Linked DNA regions of Homo sapiens: region 1 is linked to region 2. The links come from fine-mapping of genetic effects on gene expression. A gene starts in region 2. The other region holds a variant in brackets. All regions are shown on one strand. Distances are from middle to middle. Region 1 overlaps TLE6 (TLE family member 6, subcortical maternal complex member). Region 2 holds the start of TLE6 (TLE family member 6, subcortical maternal complex member).

Region 1 (9,688 bases), 20 kb before region 2:
TCAAAAAAAAAAAAAGATTATCCAGCGTGATGGTGCATGCCTGTAGTCTCAGCTTCTGGTGCTGAGGCAGGAGGATCTCTTGAGCCCTGGAGGTCAAGGCTGCAGTGAGCCATGATTGTGCCACTGCACTCCAGCCTGGGTGACGGAGTGAGACCCTGTCTCAACACAAAACAAAGAGGGGCTCGTGACCCCATCTCTTCCCTCTTTACCCCCAGATTTTCTCCCTGGGCCACTGCCCTAACCAGGACTGGCTGGCGGTCGGAATGGAGAGTAGCAACGTGGAGATCCTGCACGTCCGCAAGCCGGAGAAATACCAGCTGCACCTCCACGAGAGCTGCGTGCTGTCCCTGAAGTTTGCCTCCTGCGGTGTGTCTTCTGGGGCGGGGTGGCACGCCCTCAAAACCCCAACAAAACCCAGGGTGCCTATTCAATCTGAATCTTAGATAAATAACAAATAATGTTATTTATATACTAAGTTTTATATACTCAAAAGCAAATCGTTAGTACAAGTATATCCCAAATGGTGTGTGGGATATACTTATACTAAAAACCAAATAATGAAGTATTTGGGATATACCTGTCCTAAAAATTACTGATGACTTATCTGAGATTCAAATTTAAGGCTGGGTGTGGTAGCTCACGCCTGTCATCCCAACACTTTGGGAGGCCAAGGCAGGCAGATCACCTGAGGTCAGGAGTTCGAGACAAGCCTGGCCAACATGGTGAAACCCTGACTCTATTAAAAGTACAAAAATTAGCCAGGCGTGGTGGTGGGCGCCTGTAATCCCAGCTACTTGGGAGGTTGAGGCAGGAGAATTGCCTGAACCCGGGAGGTGGAGGTCGCAGTGAGCCAAGATCATGCCACTGCATTCCAGCCTGGGAGACAAGAGTGAGATTCTATCTTAAAAAAAAAAAAAAAAAAAAAAAGAAAGAAAAGAAATTTAAGCCAGGCACAGTAGCTGATGTGTGTAGTTTCAGCTACTTGGGAGGCTAAGGCAGAAGGATCGCCCAAGACCAGGAGTTCAAGACCAGCCTGGGCAACATAGCAAGACTTTCTCTACAAAAAAATTAAACAGCCAGTAGGTCGCACCTGTAGTGCCAGGTACGAGGGAGGCTGAGGCAGGAGGATTGCTTGAGCCCAGGACTTTGAGGCTGTAGGGAGCTATGATGACATCACTGCCCTCCAGCCTGGGCAATACAGTGAGACCCTATCTCTTTTTAAAAAAAAATCATTCATTAGTGTAAGTATATCCTAAATAGTACATGGGATATCTTATACCAAACAAACAAACAAACAAAACTTGGGCTGGGCACAGTGGCTCACACCTGTAATCCCAGCACTTTGGTAGACCACGGTGGGAGGATCGCTTGAGGCCAGGAGTTTGAGACCAGTCTGGGCAGCATAGTGAGATCCCAACTCTACAAAAAATATTTTTTTTTTTTTTTGAGACAGAGTCTGACTGCGTTACCCAGGCTGGAGTGCAGTGGCGCAATCTCAGCTCACTGCAACCTCTGCGTCCTGGGTTCAAGCGATTCTCAAGCCTCAGCCTCCCAAGTAGCTGGAGTTACAGGTGCCTGCCACAATGCCCAGCTGATTTTTGTATTTTTAGTAGAGAAGGGGTTTCACCATGTTGGCCAGGATGGTCTCAAACTCCTGACCTCAAGTGACCCAGCCACCTCTGTCTCCCAAAGTGGGGATTACGGGTGTTAGCCACTGCCCCCGGCAAAAAATAAAAATATTAGCTGGGCGTGGTGGTGCACACCTGTGGTCCCAGCTGCTTGGGAGGAGCGCTTGAGTCCAGGTGGTGGAGGCTGCAGTGAGCTATGATTGTACCACTGCACTCCAGCCTGGGTGACAGAGCAAGACCCTTTCTTGGAAAAAAAAAAAAAAAAAGGGAGAGGCCAGACCCAGACCCAGCTTCCCCGACCTCCCCCTGCAGCCCGGGTCTCTCGTTAGTGCCCCCTCCTTGAACCCTGCTGCTCTCCTTCCCCAAGGACGGTGGTTTGTGAGCACCGGGAAGGACAACCTGCTCAACGCCTGGAGGACGCCGTACGGGGCCAGCATTTTCCAGGTACTCGGCGGTCTGGAGCCCCCACTCTGGCAGGGCCATGTGCCCGGGTATGCCAGGGTCAGACAGAGAGATTGCCCCTGTCCCTGTCCCCCAGGTCCCCCCGCCACCCTAACCCCTCCTCAGGGTCCTGCAAGCCTCCCTACCGCCCAGGTACTAAAGCAGAGGTTGGAATTTCAGCCGGAGGCCTCGCCTCATCTGCCCGTAGCCTGTTGGTTTTTCTAAAATTTAGTTGCAGTAACATGCATATAATATTATAAAATTTAAAATTTGCCAGCCGGGCACGGTCGCTCATGCCTGTAATCCCAGCACTTTGGGAGGCTGAGGCAGGCGGATCACGAGGTCAGGAGATCGAGACCACCCTGGCTAATATGGTGAAAACCCGTCTCTACTAAAAAAAATACAAAAAAATTAGCCAGGCGTGGTGGTGGGCGCCTGTAGTCCCAGCTACTCGAGAGGCTGAGGCAGGAGAATGGCATGAACCCAGGAGGTGGAGCTTGCAGTGAGCTGAGATCGCACCACTGCACTCCAGCCTGGGCGACAGAGTGAGGCTCTGCCTCAAAAATAAATAAATAAAAATAAAATTTGCCATCTTACTCATTTCTTCTTTTTTTTTGGAGACAGAATCTTGCTCTGTCTCCCAGGCTGGAGTGCAGTGTTGCGATCTCGGCTCACTGCAAGCTCCACCTCCCGGGTTCAATCGATTCTCCTGCCACAGCCTCCCGAGTAGCTGGGATTACAGGCATGTACCACCACGCCTGGCTAATTTTTGTATTTTCAGTAGAGAGGGGGTTTCACCATGTTGTCTAGGCTGGTCTCAAACTCCTGACCTCAGGTGATCTGCCTACCTTGGCCTCCCAAAGTGTTGGGATTACAGGCGTGAGCCACTGCGCCCAGCTGTTTTTCTTTCTTTTTTTTTTTTTGAGATGGAGTCTCACTCTGTCACCCAGGCTGGAGTGCAGCGGCACTATCTCTGCTTACTGCAAGCTCTGCCTCCTGGGTTCACACCATTCTCCTGCCTCAGCCTCCCGAGTAGCTGGGACTCCAGGTACCCGCCACCACACCTGGCTAATTTTTTGTATTTTTAGTAGAGACGGGGTTTCACCGTGTTAGCCAGGATGGTCTTGATCTCCTGACCTCATGATCCACCCGCCTTGGCCTCCCAAAGTGCTGGGATTACAGGTGTGAGCCACCACACCCAGCCTGTTTTTCAAATTTTATATCCCCATCAGCAGTGATTGAAATTTTAAAATTCTCTGCATCCTCACCAACACTTGTTATTGGCTGTCTTTTTAATATGCCCGTCCTGGTTGGTACAGTGTTTTTAATATGCCCGTCCTGGTTGGTACAGTGTTTTTTTGTTTTTTTGACACGGAGTCCTTCTCTGTCGCCCAGCCTGGAGTGCAGTGGCGCAATCTCAGCTCACTGCAGCCTCCACCTCCTGAGTTAAAGCGATTCTCCTCCCACAGCTTCCCAAGTAACTGGCATTACATGTGCCCGCCACCATGCCTGGCTAAGTTTTGTATTTTTAGTAGAGACGGGGATTCCCCACGTTGGCCAGTCTGGTCTGGAACTCCTGACCTCAGGTGATCCACCTGCCTCGGCCTCCGGAAGCGCCGAGCCACCGTGCCAACCCTTTATATTTTCAAAGGGTTGTAAGAAAAAAATCCCAGAATATGTGACATGGACTTATTTAGACTTTAGGCAAAGCCTAAAATGTTTACCAGGCCCTTTGTGAAGTTTGCTGATCCCTGGTCTAAGCCATTGCCTTGGCCCTCTGCTGTGCTGTGTGACATCATGCCTGGTGCACACCCACTCTGAGCTTCCAGAAAGGGCAGCACTTCAGTTCCATCTCTCTTGGTATTGAGGGAATGGAGGCCCTGTTCTGCCCATTGGACTTAGCTCCAAAGCACCTGTCTGTAGAAAACAAGTCGCTCTGCCGGGCGCGGTGGCTCACGCTTGTAATCCCAGCACTTTGGGAGGCCTAGGCGGTGGATCGCCTGAGGTCAGGAGTTTGAGACTAGCCTGGCCAACATGGGGAAACCCAGTCTCTACTAAAAATACAAAAATTAGGCCGGGTGCGGTGGCTCATGCGTGTAATCTCAACACTTTGGGAGACCAAGGCAGGCGGATCACCTGAGGTCAGGAGTTCAAGCCCAACCTGGCCAACATGGTGAAACCCTGCCTCTTCTAAAAATACAAAAATTAGCCAGGCATGGTGGCATGCACCTGCAATCCCAGCTGCTTGGGAGTTCGAGACAGGAGGATTGCCTGAACCTGGGAGGCGGAGGTTGCAGTGAGCAGAGATCACACCATTGCACTCTAGCCTGGGCAACAGAGTTAGACCCTGTCTCACAAAAAAAAAAAAAAATTACACACACACACACACACACACACACACACACACACACATTGGCCGGGCGTGGTTGCGGGCGCCTATAATCCCAGCTATTTGGGAGGCTGAGGCAGGAGAGTGTCTTGAACCCGGGAGGTGGAGGTTGCAGTGAGCCAAGATCGCACCACTGCACTTCAGCCTGGGCGACAAGAACAAAACTCCATCTCAAAAAAAGAAACACGTCACTCTGTAGGCGAGTCCTGACCTCCCGTTCCTGACTCCGCCCCAGCCTTGCCCACACACCCATCTGTGGGGACCATGCCTCACTGTGCCCTTTTCTCTCTCCCTTCCCTTGGCAGTCCAAGGAGTCGTCCTCAGTCCTGAGTTGTGACATCTCCAGAAATAACAAATACAT[C/T]GTGACAGGCTCGGGGGACAAGAAGGCCACCGTGTATGAGGTGGTCTACTGAGACATGACCCCCCTTCCTGTACCCGAAGTCCAGACTCCCAGGGGAATCAGCAGCCAGGACAGACATCCTAGCAGCCGCCTCCCAGCCCTGCCTAGGAACCGTACATCCCATCTGCTCTCTGGCCAACGGCTTCACACCTTCCCCTGCTGCATGTGGGGGCCGATGGGCAGGGGACCTCGGTGGAAATAAAATGTATCTATCACATCCGCACTTCTCTCTCGGGCTGGGGAACCGGTGATCATTGTTCCTCTTGGGCACGGTTACTGGGAGGCAACCATGTCCTGGGGATGGGGTCATACGTAACGAGAATTCTTTCTGCAGGATATTCAGAGGTGTCTGCCTGGTATGTGAGAGCCACTCTGAGACACAGGAGTTGCGCTGGGCAGGATCGTTAAGATGCTGTTGCGTAACAAGTAGTCCCCGAGTCTCAGGGTTCATGCATTTTTTCCTTGCTCATACCCACATGGTGTACGGGGCTCTACTCCAGGTAGTCACTCAGGCCTCCGGGTAGAAATTTTTTTGAGACAGTCGCACTCTGTCTCCCAGGCTGGAGAGTACAGTGGTACGATCTCAGCTCACTGCAACCTCTGCCTCCTGGGCTTAAGCAATTCTTCTCCCTCAGCCTCCCGAGTAGCTGGGATTACAGGAACACCACCACACCCAGCTAATTTTTGTATTTTTAGTAGAGACAATGTTTCTCCATGTTGACTAGGCTGGTCCCAAACTCCTAACCTCAGGTGATCCACCCACCTCGGCCTCCCAAAGTGCTGGGATTACAGGCGTGAGCCACTGCACCTGGCTAGATTCCAAGGATTTCTAAGAGCCCTGCGCATGGCAAAGGGCTGAGCAAACGTCCCTGCCCAGTGGAGGGGAGGGGTACACTGAGCACTAAGGGATGAGAAACAGCCCCCAGAGCCCTGAGAAGACTGTTCTGGAAAGAGGAGAATGGCGGATGCGATATCTCAGAGGCAAGGGGAACTCGGCCTGGTGGTTACCCAGAAGACAGCCAGGTTCTGGAGAACGAGGCCTGCAGACAAGGCTTCAGTGGGGAGCGGGGAGAGTGGGGGGCAATCAGCCCCGTGTTCTGGAAGCTCAGGTGGGCTACCACGTACAGCAAGGGTTAGGACCGGTGCTGGGGCTCACACCTGTCATCTGAACACTTTGGGAGGCTGAGGCGGCAGGATTGCTTGAGCCCAGGAGTTTGAGACCAGCCTGGGCAATAGTGGGACTCCATCTCTAGAAAAAAAATTTAAGGCAGCATAGGTTGGGCGGAGTAGATGCCGCTGGGAACATTCTAGAAGGAGATGGGAGGGTTCCTGCTGAGAACAGAAGGCACGCCCTGGTGGATGTTTCTGGAGACACCGCAGGAAAGGGGATAATTCTCTGGGTTAAGGAGCCTAGGCCCGTTGACATCTGGGCCCCTTCATAGCTTGGAAAAGGGAGGGTGGGCAAGTGGCGTTTCCAGAGCCCTAGCTTGTGTGGGAAGAAGGCCGACCAGTGAAGCTATTGGAAATTTGTTTCGACCTTAGCACTGTGGACCTCGGGACTGGACCATCCTCTGGGGTGGGGCCGTCTTGGGCACCACAGAATGGTGAGTAATGTCCCTGCCCCCACCCACTCCATGCCAGGGGGACCCCACAAGTCGTGACAACCAGAAATGCCTCCAGACATCGCCTAGAGTCCCCGGGGGGCAGAATCACCCTACTGGAGACTACTGGTCAAATGGGACATGTCTAGGACAGGACCACTCACACTGCTCCTGGAATCACACCAGAAACATCGGACCAGATTGGAGCTGCTCCGGGCGGCGGAGGTGGAGATCTGCTACCCCAACAGCAAAGTCTGTGGCTGTGACTAGATTCCCAGAGAACGAGGACGGAAACGGCTCAGAGGGCTGGGCACGGTGGCTCATGCCTGTAATCCCAGCACTTTGGGAGGCCAAGGTAGGAGGATCGCTTAAATCAGGAGTTTGAGACCAGGCACAGTGGCTCACGCCTGTAATCCCAGCACTTTGGGAGGCCGAGGTGGGAGAATCACATAAAATCAGGAATTTGAGACCAGCCTGGGCAACAGAGCAAGACCCTGTGTCTACACAAAATTTTGTTATTTCTATTAATTTGAGACAGAGTCTCGCTCCGTTGCCAGGTTGGAGTACAGTGGCACGATCTTGGCTCACTGCAACCTCTACCTCCCGGGTTCAAGAGATTCTCCTGCCTCTGCCTCCTTAGTAGCTGGGATTACAGGCACGTGCCACCATGCCCAGCTAATTTTTGTATTTTTAGTAGAGATGGGGTTTCACTGTGTTAGTCTCAAACCCCCGACCTCAAAGTGCTGGAATTACAGGTGTGAGCCACCACACCCAGCATCTACAAAAAAATTAAACTAGCCGAGCACGGTGGTACATATATGTAGTCTCAACTACTCAAGAGGCTGAGGCAGGAGGATGGCTTGAGCCCAGGAGTTGGAGAGGCTGCAGGGAGTCGTGATGGCACCACTGCACTCCAGCCTGCATAACAAAGTGAGACCCTGCCTCAGAAAAAAAAAAAAAAAAAAAAAAAAAGGCTTAGAGCCACCAGGCTGGACGAAGTCCTTCCAGATTTCCACAAGTTGAGCAGGGACGGGATGGGAAGGCCCCTTTCCCTTCAGAGGACAGGACGCGTCCACACTCTGCCTTTCCCGGGTGCTTTATTACACGTGATGGCGACCAGTCTACACCACAGACTAGATCGTGCGATGCCACAGAAGAGCCTTCCCGCTTCCCTCCACCATGTCCCCCTTGTTGGGGGGGGGGAAGGGGGGGGATGAAAAGAGGAGCCGGAGTGGGATGACAGCAGCGAGGCCCCTCAGTAGGTGATCTGGTACACGGAGGCGTGCTCCCCGGAGCCTGTGACAACGAGGCGGTTGTTGGAAGAGACGTCACAGCACGTGACTGGAGACATCTCAGGCACCTGGAGGGGGGGCAGTGGGCAGTGAGCTGGGGTAGGGCTCACACACCCCTGGTCTCCACCTGTCAGCTCAAGCATGAAGCATCGTCTCTTCAAAGAAAGACAGGGTCTTGCTCTGTTGCCCAGGCTGGAGTGCAGTGGTGCAATCTCAGCTTGCTGCAGCCTCGACCTCCTGGACTCACACAATCTTCCTGCCTCAGCCTCCCAAGTAGCTGGGACCGCAGGTGTGCACCACCACACTCAGCTAATTATTATTTTTAATTTTAAAAGTGTTTTTAATTATTATTATTATTTTTTTAGATGGAGTCTCTGTCACCCAGGCTGGAGTGCAGTGGCACAATCTTGGCTCACTGCAAGCTCCGCCTCCCTGGCTCACGCCATTCTCCTGCCTCAGCCTCCCAAGTAGCTGGGACTACAGGCGCCCACCACCACGCCCAACTAATTTTTTGTATTTTTAGTAGAGACAGGGATTCACCGTGTTAGCCAGGATGGTCTTGATCTCCTGACCTCATGATCTGCCCGTCTCGGCCTCCCAAAGTGCTGGGATTACAGGCGTGAGCCACCGCACCCGGCTCAGCTAATTATTTTTTGTAGAGATGGGGTCTCACTATGTTGGCCAGGCTGGTCTCGAACTCCTACACTTAAGAGATCTTCCTGCCTCAGCCTCCCAAAATGCTGGGATTAAAGCCGTGAGCCACCACACCTGGCTACTTTTTAAGTTTTTTGTGGAGACAGGGTCTTGCTGTGTTGCCCAGGCTGGTCCCTTTGGGGCCACCCCCGGGTCCTGCCCCCAGCCCACCGCAGTACCTCGAACACTTTTGTCCCCGCCGGCATGCTGTAGACGCCAAGGAAGTCGTCCATTCCAACGCTTGCCCACCACTGGCCTGGGAGAAATGGAGCATCAGCGAGACTTAGAACCACTACCTTTTTCCTTCCCAGAGTTCATCCTCCCCACCCACCTTTTTTTTTTTTTTTTTTTTTTGAGACAGGGTCTCACTCTGTCACCCAGGCTGGACTACAGTCAGTGGTATGATCACAGTTCACTGTGGCCTCAGCCTCCCCGGGCTCATGGGGACACCAGTGGCTGAAGGGGGAAGGGCGGAGGCGGACCGCGCCGGTGGGGCGGGTGGGGAGGAAGGGCCCAGGCACCCACCCCCTTCCCTCCCTCATTCCACTATAAGAGCATCCCCAAAATTGGTTTCTGCTACAGAAGGGTTCTGAGGTGTCCTAGAGGGTTGGGTGGGGAGCTGGCATTAGGTGGGGTCTTGTGGGAGGCTGGGGGCTGCAGGGGAGTCCCCTCATCTTCCGCCAGCCGCTTACCAAAGGGGGAGAACTTGACGCTCAGGATGACGCTGTCTTTTTGCCCCACCATGTGCCGCTGGCTCCCGCTGGTGCTTTGCAGCCACTGCTGGCCATTGGCCATGCCCAGCAGCACCCAGTCCTCCTGGGGGCTGTGGGACAGGCTCATTATCTAGGTAATGGGCAGTGGGGAGGGAGGAACCTGGTTAGGTCCCAGCCTGGCCCAGGAAGCAGGCAGGAGCCTGGGGACCTATCCTGGAGGCCGGGTGACTGACCCCTTCCTAGCTGTGCAGCCCTGGGACAAGCAACTTCGTATCTGTGCCTCAGTTTGTTGGTGTGTAAAATGGAGAGTCTTCCCTACTTTGCACCTGATACAGCATGAGTGTTTATTTTGAGACGGAGTCTCGCTCTGTTGCCGGGCTGGAGTACAATGGTACGATCTCGGCTTACGACAACGTCTGCCTCCTGGGGTTTAAGCGATTCTCCCGCCTCAGCCTCTTGAGTAGCTGGGACTACAGGCATGCGCCACCATGCCTGGCTAATTATTCTGTTTTTTTTTTTTTTTTTTTTTTT
Region 2 (9,688 bases):
GTCCTTCCCACGGCCCACAAGGCTCAGCATGACCTACCCCTCGTCCTCTGTCTTCACCATCCCCCACCTCCTTTTTTTTTTTTTTTTTTTTTTGAGACAGAGTCTCGCTGTCGCCCAGGCTGGAGTGCAGTTCCACGATCTTGCCTCACTGCAATCTCCACCTCCCGGGTTCAAGCAATTCTCCTGCCTCAGCCTCCCAAGTAGCTGGGACTACAGGCGCCCGCCACCACGCCTGGCTAATTTTTTTATTTTTAGTAGAGACGGGGTTTCACCATGTTGATCAGGCTGGTCTCGAACTCCTGACCTCAAGTGATCCACCCTCCTCGGCCTCCCAAAGTGCTGGGATTACAGGTTTGAGCCACTGTGCCCGGCCCCCCTCTGTGCTTTCTCATGCCTTTCATGGAGGGACAGCCGCACCCCTGAGCTCCTGGTCACCCACCTGCTTGTGATGTTCTGCCACATCCTGCTGGATCTTGTGCAGCTGCAAAGGGAAAACAGAGATCCCATCGGGAGGTGGTCCGGGTGTGAATGCTGTGTGACCCTGGGCAAGCTGCTCTACCTCTCTGGCCCCTACTCCCCCACCTTAAATTTTTGTTTTCACCTTGTTTTCTCTTTTACTTTCTTACTACACTGATGTATGGTCCCTACCTTTTTTTTCCTCAGAGAGAGTCTTGCTCTGTTACCTGGGCTGCAGTACAGTGTGATCTCAGTTCACCGCAACCTCTGCCTCCTGGGCTCAAGCGATTCTCCTGCCTCAGCCTCCCGAGTAGCTGGGAGTACAGGCACCTGCCACCATGCCCGGCTAATTTTTGTATTTTTAGTAGAGACAGGGTCTCTACTATGTTGGCCAGGCTGGTCTCCAACTCCTGACCTCAGGTGATCCACCTGCCTCGCCCTCCCATAGTGCTGGGATTACAGGCGTGAGGCACAGTGCTTGGCGGAAAAGAACCTCTCTAGGGCACTCAGGAGGCAGGGCCGGGAAACCAGGGCCTCAGCTTGTCCCAGTGGGGCCCTCCTTGGTTGGGGCTGCCTGGGTCTGGCTCACCGAGTAGTAAATGCTCTCCAACTCCGCAGCAAAATGAGGAGAAAACCTGAGGGGGAAGGAGGACAGGCTGGAAGACCTGTGGCTTCAGGACTCCCTCCCCAGAGTGAGCCCCACCCTCAACCCCTAGGGAGGGTCTCAATGAAGCTGGAAGGCACTGGCTCCAGAAGCCAAATTTAAGGCAGTGTCAAGAAGTTCAGTAAGATTTTAATGCAGTATATTCTTTTTTTTTTTTTTTTGAGACAGAGTCTCACTCTTGTCACCCAGGCTGGAGTGCAGTGTCACTGCAACCTCCGCCTCCTGGGTTCAAGAGATCCTCCTGCCTCGACCTCCCGAGTAGCTGGGATTACAGACACCTGCCACCACACCCAGCTATTTTTTTGTATTTTTAATAGAAACAGTGTTTCACCATGGTGGCCAGGCTGGTGTCAAACCCCTGACTCCAGGTGATCCGCCCACCTCGGCCTCCCAAAGTGCTGGGATTACAACAGGCTTGAGCCACCGCGCCCCGCCACTTTCTTCAATTTTTTTTTTTTTAAACAGAATCTCACCCTGTTGCCCGGGCTAGGGTGCAGTGGTACAATCATGGCTCACTGCAGCCTCCAATTCCTGGGCTCAGATGATCCTCCTGCCTCAGTCTCCTGAGTAGCTGGGACTACAGGTGTGCACCACCACACTCAGCTAGATTTTTTTTATTTTTTAAGAGATGGCATCTCGCTATGTTGCCAAGGCTGGTATTGAACTCCGGGCTCAAGCGATCTTCCTGCCTCTGCCTCCCAAAGTGCTGGGATTACAAGTGCAAGCCACTGCACCCAGCCCATGCAGTACTTTTTTTTTTTTTTTTTTTTAAAGACCGAGTCTCACTCTGTAGCCTTAGGCTTGAGTGTAATGGTGTGATCCTGGCTCACTGCAACCCTCCGCCTCCTGGGTTCAAGAGATTCTCCTGCCTCAGTTTCCCAAGTAGTTGGGATTACAGGCACCCACCACCAAGCCTGGCTGATTTTTGTATTTTTTGTAGAGACGCGGTTTCACCATGTTGGCCAGGCTGATCTTGATCTCCTGACCTCAAGCAATCCGCCCGCCTCCGCCTCCCAAAGTGCTGGGATTACAGGTGCGAGCCACCATACCCAGCCGTTGCAGTATTTTTCAACAATAAAATTGAATGCCAACAAATCCATGTCGAACAGGAAAATCAAAATTTTAATATTTGTTGGTAATTTTGTTTAATCAAAAGCTGGGATGGGTATTGCCGGGTTCTCCATGCTGGGTATCTGCATGGCTTCCTGTTCCTGAGCCTGGCTCTTGGGCCAGCAGCCTCTAGACCACTCACTAGGACCCCCGGGAGAGAGGCCAGGTGGGGCTCCTTCCCAGCGTGAGACCTCCGGCCCCTGGAATTGCTCTCACCTGGGGAACTGCTTGAGCCGATTTAGAATGCCCTGATAATTCAGCGTCGGAGAGCTCTCAGAGTTCGAGATCCCAGGACAAGGCTGGAAAGGTCAAAGCAAGGTTACATAAAACTTACAATGCTCCAACACCCAAGACCCCCGGTCTCCACCTCAACATGGCATAGGCATTAGGTTGGTGCAAAAGTAATTGTGGTTTTTGCTTTTTTTTTTTTTTTTGGAAACCGAGTCTTGCTCTGTCGCCCAGGCTGGAGTGCAGTGGCACAATCTCAGCTCACTGCAAACTCTGCCTCCCGGGTTCAAGCGATTCTCCTGCCTCAGCCTCCCGAGTAGCTGGGATTACATGCGCCCGCGCCCCCCTCCCCCGCCCGCCCCCGGCAACACACCTGGCTTATTTTTGTATTTTTAGTAGAGATGGGGTTTCACCATCTTGGCCAGGCTGGTCTCAACCTCCTGACCTCATGATCTACCCGCCTCGGCCTCCTAAAGTGCTGGAATGACAGGCATGAACCACCGCGCCCGGCCTCTCTTATTTCAGTAAAGAGCATCTTCCATTTTGCACTTTGGCCTAAAGTCTAAAATGTTCACCACATTCTTGTGATGAAAATAGAAGCACAAAATATTTTTAAAAATAAAAGTCCGGGCAAGGTGGCTCATGCCTGTAATCCCAGCACTTTGGGAGGCCGAGGTGAGCAGAACACCTGAGGTCAGGAGTTTGAGACAACCCTGGGCAACTCAGCAAAACCCCGTCTCTACTGAAAATACAAAAATTAGCCGGGCGTGGTGGCGCGCACCTGTAATCCCAGCTACTCGGGAGGCTGAGGCAGGAGAATCACTTGAACCTGGGAGGTGGAGGTTGCAGTGAGCCGAGATCGCGCCACTGCACTCCAGCCTGGGCAACAAGAGCAAGACTCAATAAAATAAAGTCTCTTGGCCAAGTGTGGTGGCTCACACCTATAACCCCAGCACTTTGGGAGGCTGAGGCAGGCAGATCACGAGGTCAGGAGCTCGAGACCAGCCTGGCCAACATGGTGAAACCCAGTCTCTACTAAAAATACAAGAAAAATTTGGTGGTCATGGTGGCAGGTGCTTGTAGTCCCAGCTACTCGGGAGGCGAGGCAGGAGAATCACTTGAACCCGGGAGGCAGAGGTTGCAGTGAGCTGAGATTGCGCCATTGCATTCCAGCCGAGGTGAGTGTGAGACTCCGTCTCAAACATAATAAAATCATAAAGTCTCAAAACAAAATATCCCTCATCTGACTCCTTTACAAAAAAAAACGTCTGCTCAGCCCTGAGAGCCTAAATTTACAAATGGTCATCTCTGGGACGCAAAGTGCAGGGAGCGGGGATTGCTTGTAAAACATCAACCAAATACATGATGTGTTCCTGTGTTTTTATCACATATGTGATTAGATGCTACATTTTTTTTTAGATGGGATCTCACTGTCACCAAGGATGGAGTGCAGTGGCACCATCATAGTTCACTGCAGCCTCAAACTCCTTGGGCTCAAGCCAACCCTCTGCCTCAGCCTCCCAAGTAGCTGCAACTACAGGCCCACGTCACTAGGCCCAGCTGATTCTTCTAGTTTTATTTTTTACAGAGACAGGGTCTCACTACGTTGTCCAGGCTGGTTTCAAACTCCTGGGCTCAAGTGGTCCTCCTGCCTCGGCCTCCAAAAATGTTGAGATTACAGTTGTGAGCCACAGTGTCCAGCCTACACTTAATTTTTTTTAAAAAACACGGCTCCTTGGCACCTGTCTTGAGTGTAGCAGCGACCAGTATTGTCTTCAGCTGCGAGGCCTGGGCGGGGCCAGCCCAGGTCACAGGTGGAAAAGGGGCAGAACCACATTGGGCCCGGGTTTCCCTTGAGGGCTGATCCCACCACATGCCCTCCTCACCGAAGTGCTTTTCGGGGGGCCCTTGGGTCTGGGCTGGTCCCTAGAGGTCATCTTCAAGGCAGTAGCCTCCAAGACTTTAGCCAGAGTCTAAAACAACAAGGAGACGGCAGGTCTTGAGGGACAGAAAATAAGGCAGTGCCAGGGAAGCAAGGCACCCGTTACCCCACCCGCACCTCCCAGTTTGGTAAGTCTCCAGGGACCCAATCCTGCGGTTCTCCCATGCGTTCCCTAGGTCCTGTCCTCACTTATCAATGCCTCCAGCTGCCCAGATTCATGGGGGCGGGGACCCAGAAAGAACTGAGCCTTGCCTCCCAGGCCTCACCCTAGGAGGCTGGGGTGGATAGTGCACATACACTCCCTGCTGGGGGCAGTCAGGGACGGGGGAGCCCAGGGAAGGTCGCCAAAGCTCAACCTTAGTTTTGAGACAATTTCCTAAAGCGCAGGGAGATCACTAGAAAGGGGTTTTGAAGGATGACTAGGAGTTAGCCAGGTGCATTAGGCGGAATTCATCAGACAGAAGAAACGACCTCTCTCCACCTCCATCCCTGCTGCAGCACCCAGCTTCTTCCTTGCCTCAGTCCTGCCCCTCCACGCCCCTGCAGCCCCTTCCCCGGCCGGGAATCCTGGAGTCCCCCCAGCCCCCTAGAACACGCCTGGCAACTCACGTCCCTCACCGGGCGGAAGCTGCGGAGGTCAGCCAAGTTCAGGCCAAGAGGAAACTCCTCCTTCCCCCACCGGGGGCCATTTGACCCATCGGGCCCCGCCTCGTCCCGCCTTGTCCCCGCCCCGTCCCGCCCAGGCCCCACCCAGCCGCCACCTGGACCGCGAAGCAGATCAATGAAGGCGCAGTAGCTGCACGTGGGTTCGGGCTCCGGGGGGGGCAGGCCTCTGGCGGCGCCGGCCAATAGCGAGGCCGTTTACGCACGTGGGTCGCGTACGCCCTCCCTGATTGGTCGGCTCTCCCCGGCCGCCGGCCATGCTGTCACTCAGCGAGCCGGGAGCCTCTGCTTTACCCTTTCGGTCCCGCTGCCGGGAAGGGCGGACTTGCAGAGCTATAGGCAATTTGGGGTCCCAGCGGGGGCGGGGATATTTAGGAGGGCGTGGGGCTTGAGGCTCAGAGGCTGGAACTTGGGCAGGGATAGGTGGCGAGTAGTTGCATTGTTTTACGCATTTTTAGCCTTGTCCGGAAGTGGCTTATGGCTGGAGGTGAGGAGTGGGAGGTGGGTGGGTTCAATCTTTAGCGCTGTCACCCCAATTCTTAGATACGGGCTAATTACATTTTCCTCAATATTAAATAACGTGCAATGCAAACGAAGCTTCAAGTCCTCTTTCTGGAGCCAACTTACTGGGTCCCCTTGATGGTCCCAGCCCCGGGCTATGCATTTATCACCGAATTTTCCCAACTGCTCTTCCAGCCCAGTGACAAAGGCTCTGAGAGCAGAAAGCGGGACAGCAGAGGCCCTGAGGCTGATACAGTATTGCCGGATGCAAGCGCGGGGTGGGAGAGAGTGGTGGGTATTCCAGACGGAGGGAATAGCGGAACCTCTCAGGCAGAGCTGGGCTGGTTACAGGAGCAGCCAGGGAGGCTAACGGGGCTGCGTGCACTCCGAACAGGCCTGGGATGATTTCCGAGAGGTAAGTGGGTTGCTGCAGAGCGAGAGAAACCTGCTGTGTGGGGTCGTGGGGATAGGAGTAAGGGGATTTCGGAGTTTTGTTTTGGCCTATTCAAAATATGAAGCCAAGTCACCATGGCTCACACCTGTGATCCCAGCATTTTGGAAGGCTGAGGTGGGAGGATTGCTTGAGGCCAGGAGTTGGAGACCAGCCTGGGCAACACAGTGACACCGCGTCTCTACAAAAAATTTAAAAATTAGCCAAGTGTGGTGGTCATGCACCTGTAGTCTCAGCTACTGGGGAGGCTGAGGCAGGAGGATGGCGTAAGCCCAGGAGGTTGAGTCTGGAGTGAGCTATGATCGTGCCACTGCACTCCAGTCTGAGCAACAGAGCAAGACTCCATCTCAAAAAAATATATAGCTATAATATATATAAAGTATATATATTATATATATAGTGGTCAAGCTGCAGTTCTGGAGTGAGAGCCCGTTTCTTTCTGTTTGGCCCAGGACCTGGTACTGGCATTAGCAGTTCACTCTGCCAGGGACAGTCTCTCTCAGACAGCCACCGGCTGGCTCCTTACTCCCTCAGCTCCCTACTTAGAAATCACCACGTTGGGCCAGGTGCTGTGGTGCACGCCTGTAATCCCAGCACTTTGGGAGGCAGAGGTGGGTGGATCATCTGAGGTCAGGGGTTCGAGACCAGCCTGGCCAACATGGTGAAACCCCAGCTTGGCCGGGTCACACCTGTAATCCCAGAACTTTGGGAGGCCGAGGCGGGTGGATCACGAGGTCAGGAGATCGAGACCATCCTGGCTAACACGGTGAAACCCCATCTCTAATAAAAAATACAAAAAAATTAGCCGGGCGTGGCGGTGGGTGCCTGTAATCCCAGCTACTGAGGAGGCTGAGGCGGGAGAATGGCGTGAACCCGGGAGGCGGAGCTTGCAGTGAGCCAAGATTGCGCCACTGCACTCCAGACTGGGCGACAGAACAAGACTCTGTCTCAAAAAAAAAAAAAAAAAAAGAAAACCCCAGCTCTACTAAAATACAAAAATTAGCCAGGCATGGTGATAGGCACCTGTAGTCCCAGCTACTCTGGAGGCTTAGGCAGAAGAATCACTTGAACCTGGGAGGCGGAGGTTGCAGTGAGTCGAGATTGTGCCACTGCACTTCAGCCAGGGTGACACAGCAAGACTCTGTCTCAGAAAAAAAAAAAAAAAATCACCACATCAGGCCAGGCGTGGTGGCTCACGCCTGTAATTCCAGCACTTTGAGAGGCCGAAGCAGGAGATCACTTGAGGTCAGGAGTTCCAGACCAGCCTGGCCAACATGCTGAAACCCTACCTCTACTAAAAATACAAAAATCAGCCGGGCACGGTGATGCACATCTGTAATCCCAGCTACTTGAACCTGGGAGGCAGAGGTTGCAATGAGCCAAGATGTCGCCATTGCACTCCACCCTGGGCGACAGAGTACTCTGCCTCAAAAGAAGAAAAGAGTTCATGACCAGCCTGGCCAACATGGCAAAACCCCATCTCTACTAAAAATACAAAGGTCAGCTGAGTGTGGTGGCAGACGCCTGTAATCCCAGCTACTTGGGAGGCTGATGCAGGAGAATCGCTTGAACCCGGGAGGTGGAGGTTGCAGTCAGCCAGGATCGTGCCATTGCACTCTAGCCTGGGCAACAAGAGTGAAACTCCATCTCAAAAAAAAAAAAAGAAGGGAGGGAGGGAGGGAAGGAAGGAAGGAAGGAAGGATCTCATTGAAGAGACCTCCCAACCCTCCCTTCCCTTCCCTATATTTCCCTTTATTTCCTCTTTTTTTTTTTAAACACAGGGCGAGGGGGAGGGGAGTCTCAGTACATTGCCCCGGCTGGTCTTGAACTCCTGACCCCAAGTGATCCTCCCACCTCCACCTCCCAAAGTACTATGGATTACAGGCATGAGCCACTGTGCCGCCACCGGGCCTGTATCTCCCTTTCTTATTTTATTTTTTTCCGAATGTGGTTTGGATTGCAGCTAATCTTGTAATCTCAGTGGCTCCTGTGGCGGGAGCCTCCCACGATAGCTCTAAGCCCTGCATGTTCTAAATGCAGAGAATGCTGTCAGGATTCTCCTACAGAGACGCCTCCCATCCTCTGACCTCCCCATGTGACACAAATGCCCGATAGGTCTGCTGACTTCAGATCCAAACCCAGCCAGAGAAACTCTTCCCTGTTTTCTGTTCTGTGCTCTCTCGCTGCGGGGAACTGAGGGTTTCAATGCTGGGACAAGTAGCCCCCAGAGGTGGTGATGTGCACACGTGACTTGGGTTTTGCAGCTGGTCCATGGAGAACAAAGGGAGGGGCCGTCATGAAAGACCTGCAGAAAAGCTTCCCACCCACGAACCCTCCACTGTCCCATAATTATTATTTTTTAATTTTTATTACTTATTTTTTTGAGACAGAGTCTCTCTCTGTCCCTCAGGCTGGAGTGCAGTGGCGCGATCTTGTCTCACTGCATCCTCCACCTCCCAGGTTCAAGCGATTCTCCTGCCTCAGCCTCCCAAGTAGCTGGGACTACAGGCGCCCGCCACCACACCCGCCTAATTTTTGTATTTTTAATAGAGATGGAGTTTCACCATATTGGCCGGATCGGTCTCAAACTCCTGATCTTGTGATCCACCTGCCTTGGTCTCCCAAAGTGCTGGGATTACAGGTGTGAGCCACCACGCCTGGCTATTATTATTATTTTTTTGTGACAGAGTCTTGCTCTGTCGCCCAGGCTGGAGTGCAGTGGCACGATCTTGGCTCACTGCAACCTTTGCCTCCTGGGTTCAAGCGATTCTTCTACCTCAGCCTCCTGAGTAGCTTGGATGACAGGCGCCCGCCACCACACCACCTCCAGCTAATGTTGTATTTTTAGTAGAGATGGAGTTTCACCATGTTGGCCAGGATGGTCTCAAACTCCTGACCTCAAGTGATCCACTCATCTCGGCCTCCTAAAGTGCTGGGATTACAGGCGTGAGCCACTGCACCCAGCTGCATAATTAAAGTGTGTTTTATTTATGGTCCAGCCTCCTAATATGGGCTTTGCTTTTTCCCCTCCCTCTGATTGTAGACTTTCAGCTGGGCACGTTGCTTTATCCAAGACTCACAGGGTTGTCTCACAGGGTATCCAGTAAGCACATGTGGCTATTTAAGTTAAAATTAATTAAAATGAAATACAATTTAAAATTCCATTCCTCAGGCACCCTGCCCGCATGTCAGGCGCTCAGTCGTCACTGGCGTCTGGGGGTCACCGTACTGGACAGCGAAGATCTAGAACATTCTGTCATCACAGAAAGTCCCAGTGGACAGCACTGATTGGAGGCTCCTAGGAAAGAGAAATTCCTCCAGGGTCCATGTAGAAATCGGAAGCACATTTTCAGTAGTCATTCCATTTCTACTCTTTTTTTTTTTTGAGAAGGGGTCTCACTCTGTTGCTCAGGCAGGAGTGCAATGGTGCAACCTCAGCTCACTGCAACCTCCACCTCCCGGGTTCAAGCGATTCTTCTGCCTCAGCCTCCTGAGTGGCTGGTATTACAGGCACGTGCCACCACACTCGGCTAATTTTTGTATTTTTAGTAGAGACAGGGTTTCATCATGTTGGCCAGGCTGGTCTCGAACTCCTGACTTCAGGGGATCCACCCCCACCTCGTTCTCCCAAAGTGTTGAGATTACAGGCCTGAGCCTTTTTTTTTTTTTTTTT

Evidence for each region. PIP is the estimated chance that this variant, and not a neighbour inherited with it, causes the effect.
Region 1: its variant is fine-mapped to the expression of TLE6 in cerebellum (GTEx, PIP above 0.99).

What each region holds. Positions count from the first base shown.
Region 1 is chr19:2,993,031-3,002,718 of GRCh38, reverse strand. It overlaps TLE6 (TLE family member 6, subcortical maternal complex member), which reads right to left. Exons shown (of 17, transcript NM_001143986.2): 15 at 9,137-9,287; 16 at 8,624-8,700; 17 at 7,540-7,819. The coding sequence ends at 7,715. TLE2 (TLE family member 2, transcriptional corepressor) reads left to right here. Exons shown (of 20, transcript NM_003260.5): 18 at 216-366; 19 at 1,996-2,072; 20 at 4,764-5,075. The coding sequence ends at 4,871. Among named protein-coding and RNA genes, the nearest start is that of TLE6, 20 kb to the right of the region's middle. The variant C/T (reference allele first, on the strand shown) is at 4,820.
Region 2 is chr19:2,972,941-2,982,628 of GRCh38, reverse strand. TLE6 (TLE family member 6, subcortical maternal complex member) reads right to left here and starts at 5,065. Exons shown (of 17, transcript NM_001143986.2): 1 at 5,019-5,065; 2 at 4,345-4,431; 3 at 2,447-2,529; 4 at 1,046-1,091; 5 at 440-481. The coding sequence starts at 4,395. RefSeq lists an enhancer at 1-171 and a silencer at 5,034-5,343.